7 linked regions of the Homo sapiens genome follow. The protein of the gene in region 5 purifies or fractionates together with the protein of the main gene of each other region. This does not show direct contact. Each region holds a gene or a part of one and is shown on either strand. Other genes may lie near its edges.

Region 1 (3,500 bases), about 68 Mb from region 5:
CACCATCATCACACTGGGCTGGGGGAGGTAGTTTATTAAAACCACTGCTTTTTCTTCTTCTTTCTTTCTTTCTTTTTTTTTTTTTTTAAAGAGACAGGATCTTGCTATGTTGCCTAGGCTAGATTCAAACGCCTCGGCTCAAGCAATCCTCCTGCCACAGCCTAAGTAGCTGGGACTTACAGGCACATGCCACTAATTCCAGCTCACAACTTCTTAATTAGGGTTTTATATTTCCTAACTGGAAAGAACCACCTTGTGAGTTTATTAGCAAGAAATTGAAATTAAACTCTTAAATTGGGTAAGTGATGTCTTAAGAATACTAATTGCATAGTGGATGGTATTGAAACACAGAGCACAGACTGCTGAGCAGCTCATCTCACCAAACCTAAGAAGGAAACTGGAACAGAGATTAGAATCATATTCCACATTTAATAGCAGGCCCACTGATTTCCACTTGCCCATGTTAGAACACCTCCTAAGGAGACTGCCTGATTCTGACATGAAAGAAAATAGTAGTTAATTCTTTAAAATCCTTTTTTCATTAAATACAGAAGTTTCTATAAACCCTGATTCCCTCCCTCCACCCCTGCCCTAAAAAAACAGTGTTTCTTACCCAGTGTAATCCCGTTTAGAGTTTTTCCTTCTATAGAGGACAGCCAGAATCATGCTGATGAGCAGAGTGAGACCTAGGACCACAGCAGTAACTATGCCCACCACTACCCAAACTGGAAACACAGGCAAATTCTCTAGAGAGAAAGAACAAAATAGTTTTAAGGTACATTGCTACAGAGAGAAAACATGGAATTTTATTAAATTAACGAGCAAGTATCTTCATTTAGCAGTTACCGTACCCTCTTTTATTATCCAAACTATGAGATCCTACTATCTATCCTATTACTATGTAATTCATGACATGTGAATATTAGATGAGAAAGAATGAACTATGGAACTAAGCATTTCTACACCTACAATCCCTCTCAGTGCTCTAAAGAAAAACCGGAGGTGTGAATTTACCTGGATCTACTCTCCAACAAAACAGACTTTGTCTCAAAAATGAGACACCAGAACCTGCATTTCCTGTTTGTTCTCAAAATCAAAAGGAAGAAATAACTGTGCTGTTGTTGAAAGCTTTCTCCTGGAGAATATAAAACAGTATGAATCTCCTTCTTTCCCACTGCCCATCACATCCAAACATAATGAATTTGGTCTTTCTTCTAATTAACACTGAAAAATTCATACTCCTGAAATTAGACCAATAGGCACCAGACGGTAGGAATAAAAATGGAGAAATCAGCCACTCTGGGTCAGAATGAGCAACAAGTTTCCCAGCTCCAAGTGTGTTTGGTAGAGCCACAGGTTCGTGGCAACAGGGAGCACAACTGTATGGCAAAAATCCTCCCTCCAAACCCACCATGAAATGCAACTCATGTTTTCCAACCAAACATGAGATAAAGGAGACTGCATTATTACTGCCAAAATACTCAAGGAAGTACCTTTTTCTACGACATAGAGCCTAATGTGTCCAGGCTGGACAACGATGTCAGGAGGGTTTTTGACATCACAGATATAGGTGCCATTGTGTATAAACTGCATATTTTCTATGTTGATTGATGCATCTTTCTTGTCAAGGTCTCCAGCCCAGCTGATTCTGTCTTTAAATGGTGGATAATTCCCAAGGTACACTTGCCCTTGGGAGTAGTGGAAAAACTGCAATTAGAAAAAAGGAACACATGAACTATTCTCAAAGGCAGAATTCCTAAACTCTGTAATGTGCATGCTATGAAAGGTTCTTTTAAAGACTTCATACGGAAAGAAATGCAACATCTCTCTCCCTCTCCCTCTCCCCCTCTCTCTCCTCCTTTTTTCGGTCTCCCTCTGTTGCTGAGGCTGGACTGTACTGCCGTGATCTTGGCTCGCTGCAACCTCCCTGCCTCGGGCTCCTGTGATTCTCCTGCCTCGGGCTGCCGACTGCCTGGGATTGCAGGCACGTGCGGCCACGCCTGACTGGTTTTTGTATTTTTGGTGGAGAGGGGTTTTGCCGTGTTGACCGGGCTGGCCTCCAGCTCCTGACCTGGAGTGTTCTGCCTGCCTCAGCCTCCCAAGGTGCTGGGTTTGCAGATGGAGTCTTGCTCACTCAATGCTCAATGCTGCCCAGGCTGGAGTGCAGTGGTGTGATCTCGGCTCGCTGCAACCTCCACCTCCCAGCCACCTGCCTTGGTCTCCCAAAGTACTAAGATTACAGCCTCTGCCCAGCTGCCACCCCATCTAGGAAGTGAGGAGCGTCTCTGCCTGGCCGCCCATCCTCTGGGATGTGAGGAGCCCCTCTGCCCGGCCACCCTGTCTGGGAAGTGAGGAGCGCCTCTGCCCGGCCACCACCCCGTCTGGGAAGTGAGGAGCGCCTCTGCCTGGCCGCTGTGCAATCTTCCAAGTGTGAAGTGACAGCCTTTCTGCACGTGTACCCAACAGCTCCGAAGAGACAGCGACCATTGAGAACGGGCCATGATGACGATGGCGGTTTTGTCAAAAAGAAAAGGGGGAAATGTGGGGAAAAGAAAGAGAGATCAGATTGTTACTGTGTCTGTGTAGAAAGAAGTAGACATAGGAGACTCCATTTTGTTCTGTACTAAGAAAAATTCTTCTGCCTTGGGATGCTGTTAATCTATAAACCTTACCCCCAACCCCATGCTCTCTGAAACATGTGCTGTGTCAACTCAGGGTGAAATGGATTAAGGGCGGTGCAAGATGTGCTTTGTTAAACAGATGCTTGAAGGCAGCATACTCGTTAAGAGTCATCACCACTCCCTAATCTCAAGTACCCAGGGACACAAACACTGCGGAAGGCCGCAGGGACCTCTGCCTAGGAAAACCAGAGACCTTTGTTCACGTGTTGACCTTCTCTCCACTATTATCCTATGACCCTGCCACATCCCCCTCTCCGAGAAACACCCAAGAATGATCAATTAAAAAAAAAAAAAAAAAGAAATGCAACATCATATTACAAATCACAAGTTATGGAATCTAAGCCAGACAGAAGTTTAGAGATCACGGCACTCAACCCTGCCAGGTTTCAATGGAAGAATCAGACTCATATATCACCTCTAATCCTCTCAATATTTCATTGATATAATTATTACCACCCATAATTTTATAAAAGACAAAATGGAGACTTAAGAGAAGCCATTTTCCCAAGGTACCAATGATAGTAAATTGGGGACCCAGAGTAAAATTTAGGCCCATCTGAGTCTTCAAAGCCAATGTTCTTCCAGTAACACCATGATTGAGCCCAGTGATTCCCAAGGCTTCAGAAAGCTTAGTGTTGAGTTAGCTTACCACTAAGATACACAGAAGCACAAAGGAGAAGAATCCTAAATATCTCAGATCAGCTAATCTGAGTTTCGCCCTCTTCCTTCTGGTTTCCTATGGAAAAGTCATGGGTGTGTGAAAGGAACAAAGCCCAGATAACACAAGATACTCTTGCCGGCTTTTGAAAGTTCAGCCTT
Region 2 (4,124 bases), on a different chromosome or scaffold from region 5:
TACTTGCTCAATGTCCAGCTGACTTTATTTGAGTCTAGTTGTCAGTCCTTCTCCCTCTGATATTCAAGCTGATGTCACCACACTGTAGAGCAAACTCTTTGGCAACAGTAAGTCACAAGTTGACTTGGCTGGCTCAGTGTATATCCCAGTTTCTCTCCAACTCTGGCTTGGAAGTCTCAGAGCCTCTTGGTTCCTGGAAGTCTCACCTGTCCAGGCTACCTTAAGTAGGGTGGGGATGGTGGGCGATACTGAAAAGATCATTCCTACACACTTATTATTTTAATCTCTCATCACTTTGCAATTATGTACTTCAGACATGGTAGAGTTAATTTATCTTTAGTGAGAGAAAAATATAGTTCTTTACTATAAGAATTTCAGGGTTCTTTATATTAACAGGTTAATTTGACAAAACAGTTATTGCAGACTTACTGTGTTACTGCGTAAAAAGCACTTTATTTGGCTGAGAAAACAAGAAAGAAAATACTATTTGTGGGCAGGGGTGGATCGTTAGACATGTGAAAGAAAGGGAGGATTTGAAATCATTTCCCATTACAGATCTCAATCCATCTCCTCCTTTGTACCTTAAGAGGAGAAAGAAAGGGGGAAAAGAATTTTTAAAAGCAAAGAAGAGGAAGAGGGTAGGAGGACCATTTCAGTCTAACATGCAATTTAATTTTTTCCATTTAACAAGTTTTATGGAGCAGTTACTTTGAACATAATTATACACTGGGAAATGGAGAATGAGTGAACACCAAAGCTTCTCTCTTTGGATTCTTTTCTCTACATGCTCCATGTCCTTCTCACAATACCCCTACTCCACGGCCAGTAAATCCATCTGAAAATCAATAATAGCTATTGTAAACAAGGACTCAAGAAGTGAAATATTTGTTTTAATATCTTTGTAAATAACAACTCCCACATTTAGACCACGACTATATTTGGAATTTATTTCCGTTGACCTACTTAATTCTTACCTGCTTATATTTAAGTTTAAAACATAATCTTCTTAAAAGAAAATTGCACTGATTTTAAAATGTCAAAACATTTGGCATTTTACCAAGCTTGTCAGCTCTCTTTAAGTAAATACAGAGACGTGAATTATCTAGCCAATTCTTTTTCGTCTTTACAAACACAGAAATCATTTCCTGGGGATTAATCATTCTTTCAAGTTTAGAAAGTTGAAGGAAAATACTGATGTAGGCTGTATCACCATTACATTAAATGTTTGTGAACATTCAGACTTAAAAAACACATGCATGAATCATACTGTTGGTGATCTCAGCATTGTCTCTGTATAAAAGAAAGGCCACTAGGGGGTAGAGCTAGAAGCCCAGTAGACAAAGAAGGTAAGGGCAGTGAGAATGATGCATCTTGCATTCCTTGTGCTGTTGTGTCTGCCAGTCTGCTCTGCCTATCCTCTGAGTGGGGCAGCAAAAGAGGAGGACTCCAACAAGGATCTTGCCCAGGTAATTAACGGTGGCATCTATTGCAGCTACTGGCCAGCTCAATTGTGTCTACTTGGTCTTCCAATACAAAGCAGAATGATTAGACTAGAGATCACTTTGTTAGAAAACTGTAGCATCAGAGAATAATTAACAGGCTGGAGGTGGAAATTATTTTTATGTTAACAGAGAAGAAAAGAAAGGTTCAGAAAGGGAATATAACTGCTCAAGGTTACAATAAAATAGTAGCAGTATATTTGTGGCTAAGTGAAAAGAACATATGGAGAATATATGAAACTCCTCTGGCTTTAGAATTTATTTAGTTAAAATTATTGGGGAGGGGAGCATGCTAAGTTTGATCTTTAAATCATATCAGGTAATAGTTTTCATATTTTTACTTGTCATATTTGGACAAAAGAGTTTACCACACTTCAGTCTTAAACCAGGTCTATAATAACAATGTAAGTAGAAAAGGTTAGTATTCTAACTTTTCACAAAACTATGTTAAAAGAGGGTTTCTTTAAAAACTAACAAAAATAATGCTAGACTTGAATTTTCAATCCCCAATTCCTTACTTGACTAGCAAACTAACATTGCAATAAAATTTAAAAATTTGTATGAAATGGGGAGTCTTAATGAAAAATCAAATTAAATGTGATAGCCTCTTTTGTTTTAAGAAACTAGAGGAAAATTACGATGGATTATAAAAGTTGGATAAATGATGGAAAATCACAAAAATGCCCTAAAAATTCTATTTTCCATTAGCAATACCTAGAAAAGTACTACAACCTCGAAAAGGATGTGAAACAGTTTAGAAGAAAGGACAGTAATCTCATTGTTAAAAAAATCCAAGGAATGCAGAAGTTCCTTGGGTTGGAGGTGACAGGGAAGCTAGACACTGACACTCTGGAGGTGATGCGCAAGCCCAGGTGTGGAGTTCCTGACGTTGGTCACTTCAGCTCCTTTCCTGGCATGCCGAAGTGGAGGAAAACCCACCTTACATACAGGTAATGGTTCAGATTAGTTTTCACATAATATTGAAACCTTATAAGTTACTCGTCATATTTGGATAAGTAACATAAAGTTTTCTTTAACAATTTTTCATAAAGGCAGGAGAAAATAACATCCTCTTCAATTTTTCTCCTCCAGGATTGTGAATTATACACCAGATTTGCCAAGAGATGCTGTTGATTCTGCCATTGAGAAAGCTCTGAAAGTCTGGGAAGAGGTGACTCCACTCACATTCTCCAGGCTGTATGAAGGAGAGGCTGATATAATGATCTCTTTTGCAGTTAAAGGTAATCAAATAAAGCATCCATTTATCTGGTGTATTCATCTGTTCAGACTGCTATAGCAAGTTACCTTAGACTGGGTAATTTATAAACAACAGAAATTTATTGCTCACAATTCTGGAGGCTGGGAAGTCCAAGATTAAGGTGCCAGCAGATTTAGTGTCTGATGAGAGCCTATTCCTCATAGATGGTACCTTCTGTGTCCTCACACGATAGAAAGGGCCAGGAGGTTCCCTCAAGCTTCTTTCATAAAAGCACTAATCTCATTCATGAGGGCAGAGCACTTACGACATAATCACTTCCTAAAGACCTAACCTCTTAATACTATATTTCATTGGGCATTGAGTTTCAACATATGAATTTGCAGCAGACACCAACATTCAGACTATAGAATCTACTGTTGTTTAATTGGAACAGGGTAAAAAGAAATTCTGAACACTTATATTTCCATTAATTTGTTCCCTATCAGAACATGGAGACTTTTACTCTTTTGATGGCCCAGGACACAGTTTGGCTCATGCCTACCCACCTGGACCTGGGCTTTATGGAGATATTCACTTTGATGATGATGAAAAATGGACAGAAGATGCATCAGGTGGGTCGTAAACCTCTCGGGAACATTTCAGGAATAATGTCCAATCCTACCCAAAAATAATTGGATTATCTAGAACGAGCAATAAATCGAATATACTAGTAACTGAATTTTTTTATTACCTGAGTTTTAAACAGAAGTACTGTTTGTTTCAATCATTATTGAAGAATTTTATAAAATGTCTGTATTTTCATGTTTGCCCCCACCAAGTACAATATTGTAAAAACCATTCAACCTCATCTCCACAACTCAGGATCTTGTGGGGGTTTGAGGATCAGCATAATTAATAATGTTTTTCATCACTTTAATGATAGATGATTAGGATAGAATGAATTCCATTAAACCAGTTCCAATCCTAACATTTGCCCTCAGGTTTTCTTTCTTTCTTCTCATTGGCCTCCTTTTTACTTAAAAGTAGAGATCAGGAGAAAATGCCAGGAACTGAAAAAAAACTGTTAGGTCATCTTTTCGAATAAACATGTCACTGTCTCTAGCTTAGATGGGTTTTTTTCGCCCTAAATTGGCTTGGAAACACTTTACATCTAAACATAATGACTAAAATTAACTGTATGCTATTTAATTTTTAAAATGGCTTCTGAAGTTTAGAAACACACTGTTGAAATAATCACTATTTCTGACAGTGCCTGGGATTTTTAATGTAAATGCAAAGAACATCTTTCCTGAGTACAAGACTCAGGAGGCTGAGGCACGAGAATCACTGAACCCAGGAGATGGAGGCTGCAGTGAGCCGAGATTGTACCACTGTACTCCAGCCTGGGCAACAGAGTGAGACTCTGT
Region 3 (3,500 bases), on a different chromosome or scaffold from region 5:
TCATGTGACCTGGATCAAATAATCTAGTATCTTTGGGTGTCAGTGTACTCATTTATAAATTGTGGATACTAATATTTGCCTTATCTATAGTATTTTAAAGAACACATCCTGTAAATTGTTCTGCATTCTAGAAATACACCATAAAATCTTAAGTTTCAGAGCTAGTCTGCATGCATTTGATAAAGGGATATATTCAATTATTGGATAAGACAGATTACATATGATTTTATAGATACAGTTTTAAAAATAGGCCAGAATTTTCCCCTAATCTTGTTTGATCTTATTTACTTCACTAATTATGTTACTTGATAATGTTGGATGTCATATTCATATTGTTTTATCCTAATTAGTGGGAGAACACACTCTTGATAATTAAATAAAACTAATTAGTGCACTGAAGAGAAATTTGCTAAGCTTTAGTCAATAATTTTAGGTTTAGCATCTCATTATATATATCCTTCTATAATAGCATAGTCTAGCAAGAACGTATCAATGTCACTACCTGGTAAGACAGATAGATGGATTCCTGATATTTTCTTTTAACATAAATCTAATGAAAACTAAAAAGCAGCTACTATAATTGAGAACAGATAACAGTTCATATATATGACAGCACTAATGACTATAGTGACCTATGGATTCATTATTCATTCTCACATATCAGCATTTAAGTGTTTAAAATGCAATGTTAAATAGGTATCAATTCAGAATACAGAAAAAGTTTTCTATCAAAATGTACAAACTTTTAATTGCTGCTGCACTGAAGAAAAAATATACAACTAATTAAAAAGATGAAATCGCAAAGAGGAAAAATATTCTAATGAGACTGATGTCTATGTTCTGGATTACAAATATTCACTTTTATACAATGAGTGCATTTTGTTACATTAGCCTATCATTTAACTTGATGTTAAGATTTAAATAGTTTCATTATTAAACTTTAAGATACGTTCACATTTAATAAAAGCAAATTATAAAATTCTTATGACCAATTCAATGAAAGTATTACTTTTCTATACTTAATAGGATTGAACTTCCCTCTTCTTTCCATTGGCATTTAAAGCAGACATCTGTATTATAAACACTGCACATAATCTGCTCTAAGAAACATCTGGTCAGTAAGCTAATTTGCATAAAATACATTCACAAATGAAATTCATTTCTACAGAAAAATGTTTAGTGTTTTACATCTTGTGATACAATACCTATACATACTGTACATATTAATGCCCATTATTTAACTTAAAAAAGTGTGTAACAGCAGGCATAAAGTAAAATGTATTTTGATGGTTTACACTGCCCTCTTTAGGCAACATTAAGATAAAGAAAGACAAAAAAATTAAAATTTTTTTTAACTTCATTATTAACTCTCAAAACTTAGTAATAAAACTAAATAAATAAATAAATACATAAATACCTCCCTGGCCTGGTGCAGTGGCTCACGCCTGTAATCCCAACATTTTGGGAGGCCGAGGCGGGTGGATCACGAGGTCAGGAGATCAAGACCATCCTGGCTAACATGGTGAAACCCCGTCTTTACTAAAAATACACAAAATTAGCCTGGCGTGGTGGTGGGCGCCTGTAGTCTCAGCTACTCGGGAGGCTGAGGCAGGAGAATGGCGTGAACCTGGGAGGCGGAGCTTGTAGTAAGCCGAGATTGCACCACTGCACTCCAGCCTGGGCGACAGAGCGAGACTCCGTCTCAAAATTAATTAATTAATTAATTAAATAATAATAATAAATAAAGCTCCCCAAGCTGATATGAATGTGGAAATTAACTAATTCCTTTCTACAGGGGTGTGTCAGAGAGAAGTGCTTATGTCACATTACTCTCAGATTTAATAATTCATTTTATAATTAAATAGAATTAGTTTACAACTTATTTTAGAACAAAAGTATGAAAATTAAAATCATCTAAAATAGCATACTCTGATCTTGCTTTAAAAGCAGTGTACTAAAAATGTATTATGCAAACAGAATTGCCCCCACCCATAAAAGACATCCTGTAGAGTATGAAATATTGACAATAAATAAAAATTGTTTTGTCTATTTTGGAGAGAATTAAATTAAAAACCAAAATGTGTTAAATAATTGTTTGAAATAATAAATAAAATTATACTTCAGAAACTGGAGACTGATTTGTTGAATGTTTTGATTTTAAAAATGATGATGTACCATTTTACCAAATTTCTATCTTTCTATAATTTTCATTTTACTTTTAGAGCAAGCAAACCACCACACCTCAATCTGTCCTTCTGATCCGTAACTAACCTGCCTCTGAAACGTGGAACACTTCTGAGTTCTCGCTAGTAACAGATGATGTTGGGGACTGTGGGAATCCAGGAGTTATTTCTGAGTCACCTGCTGCCAGGATCCCATCAGCATCTTTTTCATTAGTGTCTGCAAAACTGAAATCTGTGGAAGTCTCATTCTCATTAAGGCTATCTGAGGTACCTTGCCCTGATCCACTTTCTTCATCACTTGTCAGAACTGCCCATGCTTTAGATTCAGGGCTGAGAGGAAGCAGAGCACTACCAGTCTGAATGTCATTTTCCTCTTTTCCATCATTGTGCTTTTGGGATAGCCCATTTGCTGATGGTGATTTACCAGGACTTCTGTCCATACCAGTTTGACTGTCTGAGGATACACTTGTGACTCTATTATCTTCTTCAGAATTCTCAGATAGTGAGTATGAGATTGGATTATTCTGATCCATAAGACTGTTTTCGTGGGTGTCTGAATCATTCATTACCTTTTCCTGTGATTCTCTATAGGATGAGCATGACATACACTTATGAATGGATAAGCCATCACTACCTCTGTCATCATCATCATCATCACCATCATCATCAGTGTCACCATCTTCACCACCACCCACTAAACCGGCATCAGATTTGGCACTATGACTCAGCTCAGAAGTTGCCTTAGAAGGAAACAGCAACTTTGTTGAGGTTACAGAACCATCTCTGTGGGGAGAAACAGCTGTAATGGCAACATGCCCATTTCCTATAGGAACAGAATGATCAGTAGATACAAATGTATCAGAAGCAACTGTTGGAATACCAGCAAATACCTTACCAGTAACAGAACTTTTGGTGGAGGTTAAAATTTCATCGGAATGTATAAGCTTATTTATTAGTGTATTTAATGGTTCATCAATTGATAAAACAGGTGTAGCAAATACATGCCTTCCTTTTGGGGGATGGGCCTGGTTAATCTCCAAATTGGCCGTTTGGAACAACTCATCATTACTGTACAAAGAAGGTACCACTTGGTGGGAACTTTCACTTTTTAACAAAACTGGTTCATATTTCTCACTTGCATAGGAAATGGTCAAACCTTGAAGTGAAGCAGAGTGCATATGAGAAGTAGGCGACACATCAAAAACTGGTACAGATGTAGAGTGCAGCATGTTTTCACTTGAAGCAGAATTTGATACAATGAGATGCAACATTGTAGAACTAATTTTATCAACTTTGGGGGTTTCAACCAATATTGGA
Region 4 (3,500 bases), on a different chromosome or scaffold from region 5:
TGGGTCCAAGTGATTCTTGTGCCTCAGCCTCCCGAGTAGCTGGGATTTCAGGCACGTGCCAACATACTCAGCTAATTTTTGTATTTTTAGTAGAGACAGGGTTTCACCATGTTGGCCAGGCTGGCCTCAAACTCCTGACCTCAGGTGATCCGCCTGCCTCAGCCTCCCAAAGTGCTGGGAGTATAGGTGTGAGCCACCGCGCTGGGCCTAGAGTGATTCTAATTCAGTGAATTGCCACCTCTGGCTTCATGGGCGTTTTTCTGTATCTCCTGACCAACCTGTTTTTTGGTGAGAGCGAGCGGCGGTGAGTCAGGAGCAAGAGCAGGCTTACCACAGCTCCACACCACGTTGTTTATCAAAGAGCTATATTTTTTCTTTAAATCTAAAACATTCAGACAAGTGAACAGTCCCAACTTACGAGTGACTGAATTTTCTGACTATAAAAAAGACAGTATGCTTAAATTTCTGGCAAATGTTTTCTATCTCTTGGCAAGGCTCCCAAATGCCAATCTTAACTCATTTGTCCCCTGAGCCCCCAATTCCATTAATCCAACCAGACCTACCTACCTGTCCCCTTCCAACCTAGACTCTGTCTTCAACCTCATACAACAGTGTCCTGCTCTCCAACTGAAGCTCATTTCTGAACCAAAGACTTGCAAGGATCAAGGCATGACCATTTTTAAAATCTCTGCCTATCAGCTTCTTCCTTTACCCCCAATCTCCACATTTCTTTCATCTTCATCATTGATTCTCCTCTTCCAATTTTCTCTAAACATCTTTGTAAAATGCAAAGTCCTTCAGGTGCTGCTAGGACAATCACAAATGAATTACAACAATGGATAAGGTTACAAGGGAATCCTGTCCACCCTTCCATGGACACAGAGAACTCTTGATGTTCCATTTACTGTCCAGAAACACCAAGGCAATAAGCAACACTCTCTATAACGGCCATATGTAGATCTAGGTCAAGATCTAGATATAAAAAGAACTGTACCACCACAAGGGCTCCAAAATGTCCCTTCATTCTCAATCCTGGCTTCTTGCAAACTTTCAGAAAAGTTGCTGAAATTTATCTACGGATTCAAATTAAAAAAATAATAATAAATAAATAAATAAAAGACTGTGTCTTTCTGGTTGCTCCAATTATACTATGGAAAGGCCTAGTAGTATCAGCTCAACTCCAGCCCCCTACAGTAGGTTTGCCCAACCCCAAGGCCACAGACCAGTACCAGTCTCTGGCCTGTTAGGAATCAGGCCACACAGCAGGAGTGAGCAGCAGGCAAACAAGTGAAGCTTCATCTCTACAGTCAGTCCCCATCGTTAGCATTACCACCTGAGCTCCACCTCCTGTCAGATCAGTGGTGGCATTAGATTCTCATAGGAGCACGAACCCTATTGTGAACTGCGCATGTGAGGGATCTAGGTTGTGTGCTCCTTTTGAGAATTTAATGCCTGATCTGTCACTGTCTCCCACCACTCCTAGATGGGACTGTCTACTTGCAGGAAAACAAGCTCAGGGCTCCCACTGATTCTACATTATGGTGAGTTGTATAATTATTTCATTGTATATTACAATGCAATAATAATAGAAATAAAGTGCACAATAAATATAATGCACTTGAGTCATCCCCAAACCTTCTCCCCTTTAGAATATATCACAAACTAGAAAGTATACATACATCCCCCCGACTGTGGTCCCTGGTCCCGAAAAGTTTGGGGACTGCTGCCCTACAGTTTTCAAGTCATGAGGTGACTAATTGACAAAACATAGCTGCACTGACCTCACCTCGACTGCCAAGAACCACAGGCCTCATCTAGGTCCATCCCAACATCTGGGGTAATCTTGGCTAAACTCTTTCAAATCTCAATTTCCTAATGTTTTCATAGACAGGGTTAATACTGCTGTTTCCTAATAGGAGTATTACACTAAATTAGTAGACATGCAAACAGTTATGAACAGTTTCTGTACATTTATTTCATAATTAGAATACTGTCTTAGACAAAACTTTATTGCTTTTTTATTTCTTCTGTGTTTCCATATTTCATATTAGCATGACAACAAAACTAGGTTCTTCTATTCATTTCTCTTATTTAGGTAAGCATTATCTGATGACGAGGTTGTGGGTTTTTTTTTTTTAATGTAACTGTGTCTAGCAGAAAATCTACTTGTAAATGGGCATTCAAAAGATAGCTGTATGATTGAATTACTGAGCAGAAAATTACCACTTATTTTCTATATAATTTCCTTATAACCAATCTCTCTGGTTATCTATCTTTCAGGCTGAGTTCTCAAGGATAACCTACAGATAAATGATAATCACCGGTTATAAGAGTTTCTAAAATATGCTGTTTTTATGCATGTATCAAGACAGTTTTTGGAAACTGGCAAGTAATAGCAAAGAACTTTTCTACCACTAGTTTCCAGTTAAAAACTGGGCTGTTTCTAGCTATAGCTTTAACCCTAGATTGTTAGTGATGCTAACACTTAATTCCTAACAGTCTTATTTCCCCCAAATAAAATTAAAAACTTAAGACAGAAAGATAAAAACAGGATTTAACTTATATTCCATCACACAGAGAAACTATGAGCTCCTATTTCTTAAGAGTTGTCTTTCAATGTGGAAATTTATCATAGAGCAAAAGAAAAATAAAAACAAAATGTGGTATGCTCACATTTTTGAGAAGTGATGCTAAAAATTTTTTTTTAAAAAGACTCACATATCTATAGAACAATTGTTATTTGTAAGATTAAAAGATGGAATCACAATTTTATACTGTATTACAACCCACAAATATCTCATTTGTTGCCCAGACTTCCCATTTTTGAAGTTGAAAAATACTTTCAACTGGATACCAATCTGAACATGAAAGCAAAAATAATTTTTTAAGACAACTAAGTCCTCCTTGTTTGATTATGCACCACACTGCGGTAATAAAAGTGATTCATAGGACCTACATTCATATGAAAAAAAAAACTATTTATGTTTTCAGTTCTGGGACCTCAAAATGCCAAAATACCAACCTTTAGATATACTTTAGAATATATCACAAACTAGAAAGTATATATACTTTCAGCTGGGCGCGGTGGCTCATGCCTGTAATCCCAGTACTTTGGGAGGCTAAGGTGAGCGGATCACTTGAGGTCAGGAGTTCACCTGGCCAACATGGTGAAACCTCATTTCTACTAGAAATACAAAAATTATTTGGGCATGGTGGCGGGCGCCTGTAATCCCAGCTACTCGGGAGGCTGAGGCAGGAGGATCACTTGAACCCGGGAGGCAGAGGTTGCAGTGAGCTGAGATTGTGCCACTGCACTCCAGCCTGGGCAACAGAGTGAGACTGTGTCTCAAAAAAAAAAAAAAAGAAAGTATACATACTTTCTAGTATGTATTTCATATATAATCAGACCTCCTTAATCAGATTCTGAGGGTGAACCTTAGCATTTGCATTTCTTAAGATGAATTTAAGTTTTTACAAAATATACCAACCCTGCATGCAAA
Region 5 (3,500 bases):
CAGGGCTTAAAGCATGCTAATTTTTTTAAAAATCAAAGTAGGATATAACATGTATAGGTAGGGTAATTTCAACTCTGAAAAACAATAAATACTGACCTCAATGTAAATAAAATTTATATTAGGTAATGATTTTAAGTGATATCACATTGTTTACTATGCTATTCTGAATTTTCCATATCTTTTCTAATAAGCATGCTTGCACTTTAGGAGGAAAATGCTTTGTTTATTTAAGAGAAAAATTACCTAAAACTAGCATGGAGAAAAACAAAATAAACTATGGGACAATATCTCTGATGAACATTGATGCAAAAATCCTCAACAAAATACTAGCAAACCTCCTTCAGGAAGGAGGTCTTAAAAAAGATCATTCATCGGCCGGGCGCAGTGGCTCTCACCTGTAATTCCAGCACTTTGGGAGGCCAAAGCGGGTGGATCACCTGAGGTCAGGAGTTCAAGACCAGCCTGACCAACATGAAGAAACCCCGTCTCCACTAAAAATACAAAATTAGCCAGGCGTGGTGGCGCATGCCTGTAATCCCAGCTACTCAGGAAGCTGAGGCAGGAGAATCGCTTGAACGCGGGAGGCGGAAGTTGCGGTGAGCCAAGATTGCGCCATTGCATTCCAGCCTGGGCAACAAGAGCAAAACTCCGTCTCAAAAAAATTAAAAACAAAAAAATCATTCATCATGTTCAAGTGGGATTCATCCAGGTATGAAAGGATAGTCCAACATACATAAATCTATCAAGGTGATACATCATTTCAAAAGAATGAAGGAAAATAAAATGATCATTTCAATTAATGATGAAAAAGCATTTACTAAAATTCAACACTGCTTCATAAAAACTCTCAAAAATGGTATAGAAGGAACATACCTCAATATGATAAAAGCCATATATGACAGACACAGAGCTATCATGCTGAACAGGGAAAACCTGAAAGCCTTTCCTCAAAGATCTGGAACAAGACAAAGATGCCCACTTTCGCCACTCTTATTCAACAAAGTACTGGAAAGTACCAACTAGAGCAATTAAGCATGAGTAAGAAATAAAAGGCATGCAAATTAGAAAACAGGAAGTCAAAACTGTCCCTCTTTACAGATGACATGACCTTATATAGAGAGAACCCTAAATACTCCACCAAAAAACTATCAGAATGGAAGCAAATTCACTGAAGTTGCAGGATACAAAAATCAGTACCATTTCTATATGCCAACAGCAAATATCTGAAAAAGAAACCAAGAAAATAATCCCACTTACAATAGCTACAGATGTAATACCTAAGAATAAACTTAAAGAAGTGAAAGATGTCTACAGACTACAAAACATTGATGACACGAATTGAAGAGGACACACACACAAATGGGAAGATATTTCATGTTCATAAATTGGAAGAATCAATACTGTTAAAATTTTAATACTACCAAAAGCAATCTACAGATTCAATGCAGTTACTATCAAACTACAAATGACATTCCTCACAGAATTTTTTCTTTTAAATCCTAAAACTTATATGGAACCACAAGAGCCAGAACAGCCAAAGCAATCCTGAGCAAAAAGAACAAGGCTGGAGGCTGGGCACAGTGACTCACGCCTGTAATCCCAGCACTTTGGGAGGCCAAGGCGGGCGGATCACCTGAGGTCAGGAGTTCAAGACCAGCCTGGCCATCAAAGTGAAACCCCGTCTCTACTAAAAATACAAAAATTAGCCAGGCGTGGTGGTGGGACCTGTAATCCCAGTTCCTCGGGAAACTGAGGCAGGAGAATCACTTGAACCAGGGAGGCAGAGGTTGCAGTGAGCCAAGATTGCGCCACTGCACTCCAGCCTAGGCGACAGAGCTAGACTCTGTCTCAAAAAAAAAAAAAAAAAAAAAAAAAAAAAAAACGAGGCTTGGAGGAATCACATTACTTCACTTCAAATTATACTACAAAGTGATAGTAACCAAAACAGCATAATACTGGTATAAAAACAGATACATAGACAATAGAGCACAATAGAGAACCCAGAAATAAATCCATGCATTTACAGTCAACTCATTTTTGACAACGGCACCGAAGTATACATTGGGAAAAGGATAGTCTCCTAAATGGTGCTAGGAAAAGTGGATATCCATATACAGAAGAATAAAATTATACCCCTACCTCTTGCCATGTACAACAATCAAATCAAAATGGATTAAAGACTTAAATCTAAAACCTGAAACCACAAACGACTAGAAGAAAACATTGGGAATACACTCTAGGACATTAGTCTGAACAGATTTATTTATTTATTTATTTATTTTGAGACAGAGTCTCCCCGTCACCCAGGCTGGAGTACACTACTGTACTATGTATGTCGCCTGGGCGACAGAGCGAGACTCTGTCTCAAAAAATAAAAAATAAAATAAAATAAAAGTGGAATTGGCATGTTCCTAACACAAAGAAATGATAAAAGTTTGAGGTAATGGATACCCCAGTATCCCTGATTTATTATACACTGTATACCTGTATCAACATATGCTTGTATCAAAATATCAGATGTACCTGATAAATATCTGTATCTACTTTGTACCCATAGTAATTAAAAAATTTAGAAGTCCTAACCAGAGTAATCAGACAAGAGAAAGGAATAACGAGCATGCAAATTGGAAAAGAGGAAATCAAACTGCCACTGTTTGCCAATGATATGACTGTATACCTAGAAAACCCTAATGACGCATCCAAAAAGCTCCGAGATCTGATAAACGATTCAGTAAAGTCTCAGGATACAAAATCAATGACACAAATCAATAGCACTGCTATATTCCAGCAACGACAAAGCTGAGAATCAAATCAAGAACTCAATCCCTTTTACAATAGCTGCAAAAAAAACAAAACACCTAGGAATACACTTAACCAAGGAAGTGAAAGATCTTTACAAGGAAAAGTACAAAACACTGTTAAAAGAAATCATAAATGACACAAAGGGAAACACATCCCATGTTCATGGAAGGGAAGAATCAACATTGTGAAAATGACTATACTGACCAAAACAATCTATAGATTCAATGCAATTCCCATCAAAATACCAGCATCATACTTCACAGAACAAGAAAAAACAATCCTAAAATTCATATGGAACCAAAAAAGAGCCCACATAGCCAAAGCAAGACTAAGCAAAAAACAAATCTGGAGGCATCACATTACCCGACTTTAAATTATACAAAAGGCTACAGTTACCAAAACCGCATGGTACTGGTATAAAAATAGGCATGAAGACCAATGGAACACAACAGATAACCCAGAAATAAAGCAAAATACTTATAGCCGCCTAGGCATGCCTGTAATCCCAGCATCTTGGGAGGCCAAGGCGGGTGGATCACCTAAGGTCAGTAGTTTGAGTCCAGCCTGGCCAACATAGAGAAAACTCGTCTCTACTAAAAATACAAAAAAGTTAGCCAGGCATGGTGGTGTGTGCCTGTAATCCCAGCTACTTGGGAGGCTGAGGCAGGAGAATGGCTTGAACCTGAGAGGCAGAGGTT
Region 6 (3,228 bases), on a different chromosome or scaffold from region 5:
CAGGGCAGGGCACCCCGGGCTGGCCCACCTTGGTCAGCTGTCCACCCGTGGGCAAGATGGGCTGCCCCATCATCCCACACAGAGCTGGGGCGAGCACTGGGCTCCGGGCAGGAACCCGGGCCGCGCTGGGCCGCGCTGGGCTGGGCTGGGCTGGGCTGGGCTGGGCTGGGCTGGGCTGGGGGGCAGTCAGGGCAGTGCTGGGGGCTCCTGAGGCTCCGGGGTGGAAGCTGCGGGAGCAGCTGGGCCTGCAGGCAGCTCCCAGCAGGCGTCACCCTGCACGGGCAACAGAGCCAAGGGGCATCCCTCCACCCTGGGCAGGGCCTGCCCTGTGCTCCCCAGTGTGGGTGGGTGCAGCTCAGGGGACCCAGCTGAGCACAGCCAGGGCCTTGGGCTGCTTCCCTGGTGCGGGGTCCCTTAGGCAGGGAGAGAAGCCAAGTGGGGTGGTGTCGTCTCCAATGCCAGCGCCTCGCAAGGACCCCAGGAAGGACAAGAGCCTCTCCTGCCAAGAAAGTGCTTTAATGATTATAAAGTGTCCAAAATATACTGGCAGAAATAAGCGGATCTGAGCGTTTCTCTTCAAACCTAGGATATGCAGGGTGAGAGCATGGCAGGGGCTGGTGGGCCCCAGGGTTGCCTCGAGGCCGGTCGTCCAGGGAGAGCAGCAGCAGGAAGAGCCTCAGGAGATGACCCTCAGGGATGGCTTGTCCTTCTCCAGGGCCTGCAGCCGGTCCTCCATCTCCTCAGACCAGTAAATGTCGTACAGGCTGCACACAGGCCAGAAGGGAGGCATGGGCCCGTGTCCTCCCCCACCCCCGCCTTCCTCCCTGGGCAGCCCTGGCCGCACCACCCGCCCAGCGCGTGCACATACACCAGCTGCTCCAGGAGGCAGCCCGGCTGCCGGACGCTCTCCACCAGCTGCAGGATGCCGGCGTCCCCCAGGCAGTTGTTGCTGAGGTCCAGCTCACGCAGGCTGTGGTTGGCCAACAGGGTTGCGGCGAGGCTGCTGCAGCTGCTGTCACTCACATCGCAGTCGGCCAACCTGGGTGAAGCAGGGCGGGGGTCAGGGTGCCGGGCGTGCCTGGCACCGCACTGACCGGCAGAGCAGGCCTGGGCCTGGGGGGCGCGACGGACACCTGTGCTCGGCAACTCAGGACCCTCAGGTGGGGCCGTCCCCAAGGCTCACCGTCCCTGTGGCCCTGGGCAGGTTCCCCACCACGGACAAGGAAGGCACAGACAAGCGAGGCACAAGCAGCCTCACTCGCCTGAGATCTTCTGCAGGGAGGAGAAAGGACAGGAGAGAGATGTCGTCCACCCAGAGAGCCACACCCACCCCCTTGTCACCTCGACACCGTCTGGCTGCGTGGGCTTCAAAGGAGAAGCCAGCCAGAGACTGAGGAGCAGCTGTGGGGAAACGAGGGTATGGAGGGTACCAAGACAAGAACAGAGTGGACAACAGACTTTAGGCTCCAGAGAGAGACAAGAGAACGGGTCAGACAAAAGAGGATGGGATAGAGAAGACCCAACACCCACTTCCCGGGGTGGAGCCGCCACAGGCCGGACAGCAGGGCCAAGGAGTTGCACTGGACCTCTCCAAGGTGGGGGCCAGGGAAGCTGCAGGACCCCCACCCTGTGAGTGGCTCAGGGGGAACAAGTCTGCAGTGACCAGGACCCAAGGTTCCTCTCCACATCTGGAACACCCACAAGGTCCTGGCAGCCAGGATGGTGTCCCCTGGCAGGGAACTGAAAATCCCCCATCAGGAGGAAGCCCTCGAGAAACGCAGCCATGACTCGGCCTGCAGGGCTCACTGTCCAGGGCTCCCGGGCCTCACTCTGCACCTGGTGCCCAGCCCAGGATGACCAGCCACCCACGGAAAGCCCCTGGCGAGAGGCACACGGGAAACAGCAAACAAAAGACAAAACACTGAGGGTGGAAATTCAGTAGACTGGCTGGTAAATGAGAACATCTCCCAAAAATAAAACAAAACATCGAAAAGAAAATTTGGAGAACATAATTAGAGGGTCACTCCACAAGACATCAGGACAGGCTCATGGGCACACCAAAAAAGAAACATAAGAAAGGAGAGAGAAAAAAATCACCAAAGGTATATTTTCTTAGTAGAACCAAGTATCCAGCACAAAGAACCAAGACCCCCATCAAGGCCAAGCACATGGAACCCCTAACACAGTGAACAAAGAGAGCTTGAAAAGCTGCCAACGAGAAAAAGCAGATCGTGCACACAAGGTCACAGTGGCTCACGCCTGTAATCGCAGCACTTTGGGAGGCTGAGGCAGGCTCATCACTTGAGGTCAATAGTTCAAGACCAGCCTGCCCAACATGGTGAAACCCCATCTCTACTAAAAATACAAAAATTAGGCCAGGCGTGGTGGCTCACGCCTGTAATCCCAGCAATTTAGGAGGCCGAGGCAGGCGGATCACGAGGTCAGGATATCAAGACCATACTGGCTAACACGGTGAAACCCCATCTCTACTAAAAGTACAAAAAATTAGCCTGGTGTGGTGACGGGCGCCTGTGGTCCCAGCTACTCGGGAGGTTGAGACAGGAGAATGGCATGAACTTGGGAGGCGGAGCTTGCAGTGAGCCAAGATCGCACCACTGCACTCCAGCCTGGGCGACAGAGCAAGACTCTCTCAAAAAAACAAACAAAATAAAATTAGCCGGGCATAATGGTGCATGCTATACCCGGCTAAATGATCCAAGGACAGAACAGGGGCACAAGACCCCAAAAATTACCTCCTGCAAAACCTTTTCTTAGAAAGCTGCAAAAGAACGTGCTTTAACAAAGAAAACAAATCTGGAAAAACATCCTGACACAGGCGGGGTTCCCGCAAGGGAGAAAGGTGGGCGGGGCTTCCAGGAAGATGGACCACAGGGTGGCCAGGTAGGCTGGAGCTCCGTGAAGCTCTCAGGCTTCATGAAACATGACCTCTGACTTTCAGAGTTAAAATGAGAACTAAGCCAGAGTGGTGCCGCCAGCCCGCCTTTCCCAGTACATGAACATGCACCCTCACTCTCGCCCATGTGCTCACACTCACATGGACACTCGTGCTCACTCTCGCCCATGTGCCACACTCACGTGCTCACTCGCCCATGTGCTCACACTCACATGGACACTCATGCTCACTCTCACCCATGTGCTCACACACGGACACTCGTGCTCACTCTCACCCATGTGCTCACGTACTCTCGCCCATGTGCTCACACACGG
Region 7 (3,166 bases), on a different chromosome or scaffold from region 5:
CAACTGTACCTTCATTAGCATAAGGCTGATCTACCAAGGTAGAAGCTGGAGCATACACCCTCTCTGTCACAATAAGGCTCTGTGGCTGGCTAGGACCCAGGATCACAGTGGTTGGTGGCATAGTGGACCCTGTGACATAGGAAGTTTCTGTTGCTATCACATTTCTAGAAGCCATTGGGTCAGGAAGAGGTGTAGCTACCTTTTGCGCCTGCCTAGAAGACACAGATCTTTCAGTGACTATTTCCTGAGTTACTTTCTCTGCATTGGCTTCTTGCAAAGATTTTGGAACTGGGAAGCTACTGCCAGAGGAGTAGGTATTCTCTGAATTAACCATAGTTTGCTCACAGAGTGAATGTGAAGCTGTGTTCATACTTGTTTCTGTGGCAGGTTTTTGTCTCTGCTCAATTTCCTTATTTATATCTATTTTTTGACCCAGGCAAACTTCAGCTAGTGTCTTGAATTTAAGTCCCAAATCATCTAAGAAGCGGTCATCTAGCTCTCCTTCAATAAAACTGCAACAACCAATAGAAGCATTCAGCGATTCAGTTTCTTCCTGAGAATAAACCAGAAGGCAATCTTTGGCTGTGTGATTTTCATCTTCCTCAGTGTAAGAGGCCGCTTTCTAAAATGAAAACAAAACAAAACAAACACAAAACAGACAAATAATTAGCAATATAAATTCATTTTAAAACAAGACTCTATATTCCTGTTCAAAATGCAGTAATGTGAATTTAATTACAAGGAACCATCAGGGAAACACAAATTGAGAGAGATCCTACGACACAACTGGACTGTATTCTTAAAAAAAATTAATATCAGGGAAAAAATAGAAAGGCAGAGGGGACTGTTTCAGATTAAAGGAGACTAAAGTGTCAGGACAACTAAATGGAATGCAGGATCCTGAGAAAAACAAAATTGCTGTAAAAGATAGTGTGATAGTTGGCTAAACTGAAATATGGACTATGTCAATATTAAAGTTCTACATTTGTTAACTGTACTATAGTAATGTAAGAGAATGTGTGTGAATGTGTGTCAGTGAGAGAGAGACAGAGAAAATGGAAAAGCAAATAGCAAATGTGGCAAAATGTTTATTGGGTTCAAAATTTCTATTATTCTTGCAAATTTTCTGATAACTTTGAAATTACTTCCAAATCAAAAGTTAGTACACACATACATAACCAAGAATGACTGGAGCAGGATTAGAGTGGAGAGAGGGAAAACTTACCAAAAGAAAACAAACAGGACGCTAGAATTGAGCTTAGCAGTGAGACAGGAAAGGCCAAGAAATGGTTTTGCTTGACACCACCCACATCCCTGTTAAGCTAATACTTGAAGGTGGGTGAAGGATGGTATGAAAGATGGGAGGTTAAAAAGGAGCAGAAAGTGGGAAAGCACGCTAATAATTTGCAAATTTAGAAGAGGGGGACAGAAGTAACTTGCTTTCCTCAATGGAAGCCCCTCCCCTTACTCCTCTCTAGGGCCCTTCAGATGCCTTATATTCCAACTCTGTCCATTCTCATGGGAGCACAGGGCCTTGTTCTCAAGAAAACCACCCAGTCCTACTTTTTAAAAAATTATTCTTACTATGTCTGTAAGATCTGTAGTAAAGTTCTTTATTTTATTTCTAACATCCATAGTTTGTGCTTAATCTCTTAATATCCTAATTAGTCTGGTAAAATGTTTATCAATTTTATTGACCTCTTTAAATAATAAGCTTGTGGCTTCAATTTTTTTTCTTATTACTTTTTGCTAAATATTTCATTGATTTCTGCTCTAAAATTCATCATTATCTTATTTCTGCTTGTTTTGGGTTTAATTTGCTCTTCTAACTTCTGAGGGTGGAAGCTTAGGTCACTGATTTGAGAACCATCTTCTAATATAGCCATTTTTGCTACAATTTCCCTTCAAGCATCACTTTAGTAGTACCCCACAAATTTTCATGAAGTATAATTTAATTTGCAGTCATGTGTATTTATAAATATTTGAGTATATTTTATATATCTCTTTGTTACTGATCTCTGGTTTTAATTTTTTTTTCATCAAAGTACATTGTATGACTGCAGTTCTTTAAAAGTTATTTACATTTATTTAATGTTCTAGAATACAGTCTATATGAAAAAGCATGTGTATTCTGCTTCTGTTGCATAGAGTGTTCTGTCAGTATCAACTAGATCCATTTGGTTCACAGTACTAAGTTTTCTATATGCTTACTGATTCTGTCACTTGTTCTTTCATTTACTGATAGATCAGGTTGAACTCTCCAACTATCATTATGAATTTGTCTGTTTCTCTTTCAGTTGTTTTTGCTTTAAGTTTTAAAAATTTCTGTTATTAGGTTCTGACATATTTAGGAGTTTCAGGCCTCCTGATGAACTGACTCATTTTTCATTATGAACTATCCCTCATTATTCCTGGTAATATTCCTTGTTCTGAAGTATACTTTATCTCTATGTTATACTTTTTTTTTTTTTTTTTTTTAGACAGAGTTTCACTCTGTTGCCCAGGCTGGAGTGCAGTGGTATGATCACAGCTCACTGCATCCTTGGCTTTCCAGGCTCAAGTGATCCCCCTACCTCAGCCTTCTGAGTAGCTGGGACTACAGGTGTGTGCCAGCATGCCCAGCTAATTTTTTGTATTTTTGGAGAGATAGGGTTTTAACATATTGCCCAAGCTGGTCTTGAACTTCTGGGCTCAAGTGATCTGCCTGCCTTGACCTCCCAGAGTGCTGGGATCACAGGCATGAGCCATTGTGCCTGACCTCTACATTATACTTTTATTTTCAGTTCTGCTTCTAATTCCTCAATTCTAGCATGAGCTTCCTTATTGCATCTGATCATCTTCCTGGAACTTTTCTCATCATTTTTTGGTGGACCCTCATAATAGCAAAGCCAAGTACTCTCATACAGAAGGTAAAATTTAAATGGACTTAATAGATTGTGTTTTTTAGGTTATATATCCTCTGCCTCTCCTACGGAGCTCATCCCTACCAAGCCTGCTCCTGCAGAGGGATGCAACTTTCCGACCCACTGACATCTGTCTTGGTCATATGACTTGCTTTGGTCAATGAAATGTGGTGTAAAAAGGTGGAGGCTTTGAGAGCCATTGCCTGGTTCTGCCTTGTTCTTTTCTTTGGGTCACAAGGACGGCAGCTTCCCAGGTACAATCT

The links.
Region 1: the proteins of SLC71A1 (region 5) and MPZL1 purify together in Homo sapiens (affinity purification with mass spectrometry; one large-scale study listed by BioGRID and IntAct). This does not show direct contact.
Region 2: the proteins of SLC71A1 (region 5) and MMP10 purify together in Homo sapiens (affinity purification with mass spectrometry; one large-scale study listed by BioGRID and IntAct). This does not show direct contact.
Region 3: the proteins of SLC71A1 (region 5) and PTPRZ1 purify together in Homo sapiens (affinity purification with mass spectrometry; one large-scale study listed by BioGRID and IntAct). This does not show direct contact.
Region 4: the proteins of SLC71A1 (region 5) and LNPEP purify together in Homo sapiens (affinity purification with mass spectrometry; one large-scale study listed by BioGRID and IntAct). This does not show direct contact.
Region 6: the proteins of SLC71A1 (region 5) and RNH1 purify together in Homo sapiens (affinity purification with mass spectrometry; one large-scale study listed by BioGRID and IntAct). This does not show direct contact.
Region 7: the proteins of SLC71A1 (region 5) and DSG2 purify together in Homo sapiens (affinity purification with mass spectrometry; one large-scale study listed by BioGRID and IntAct). This does not show direct contact.

The regions. Positions count from the first base shown.
Region 1 is NC_000001.11:167,770,482-167,773,981, reverse strand, and holds part of MPZL1 (myelin protein zero-like protein 1 isoform a precursor), read right to left. Parts: intron 1,708-3,500; coding exon 1,494-1,707; intron 747-1,493; coding exon 614-746; intron 1-613. UniProt on the Homo sapiens protein: Cell surface receptor, which is involved in signal transduction processes. Recruits PTPN11/SHP-2 to the cell membrane and is a putative substrate of PTPN11/SHP-2.
Region 2 is NC_000011.10:102,777,829-102,781,952, reverse strand, and holds the start of MMP10 (stromelysin-2 preproprotein), read left to right. Parts: upstream 1-1,324; 5' UTR 1,325-1,361; coding exon 1,362-1,466; intron 1,467-2,207; coding exon 2,208-2,449; intron 2,450-2,591; coding exon 2,592-2,740; intron 2,741-3,203; coding exon 3,204-3,329; intron 3,330-4,124. UniProt on the Homo sapiens protein: Can degrade fibronectin, gelatins of type I, III, IV, and V; weakly collagens III, IV, and V. Activates procollagenase.
Region 3 is NC_000007.14:122,012,661-122,016,160, reverse strand, and holds part of PTPRZ1 (receptor-type tyrosine-protein phosphatase zeta isoform 1 precursor), read right to left. Parts: coding exon 2,272-3,500; intron 1-2,271. UniProt on the Homo sapiens protein: Protein tyrosine phosphatase that negatively regulates oligodendrocyte precursor proliferation in the embryonic spinal cord. Required for normal differentiation of the precursor cells into mature, fully myelinating oligodendrocytes.
Region 4 is NC_000005.10:96,939,080-96,942,579, reverse strand, and holds part of LNPEP (leucyl-cystinyl aminopeptidase), read right to left. Parts: intron 1-3,500. UniProt on the Homo sapiens protein: Release of an N-terminal amino acid, cleaves before cysteine, leucine as well as other amino acids. Degrades peptide hormones such as oxytocin, vasopressin and angiotensin III, and plays a role in maintaining homeostasis during pregnancy.
Region 5 is NC_000001.11:100,044,595-100,048,094, reverse strand, and holds part of SLC71A1 (hippocampus abundant transcript 1 protein), read right to left. Parts: intron 1-3,500.
Region 6 is NC_000011.10:494,015-497,242, forward strand, and holds the end of RNH1 (ribonuclease inhibitor), read right to left. Parts: intron 1,040-3,228; coding exon 869-1,039; intron 765-868; coding exon 677-764; 3' UTR 501-676; downstream 1-500. UniProt on the Homo sapiens protein: Ribonuclease inhibitor which inhibits RNASE1, RNASE2 and angiogenin (ANG). May play a role in redox homeostasis. Required to inhibit the cytotoxic tRNA ribonuclease activity of ANG in the cytoplasm in absence of stress.
Region 7 is NC_000018.10:31,543,177-31,546,342, reverse strand, and holds part of DSG2 (desmoglein-2 preproprotein), read right to left. Parts: exon of another isoform or gene 2,948-3,166; intron 623-2,947; coding exon 1-622.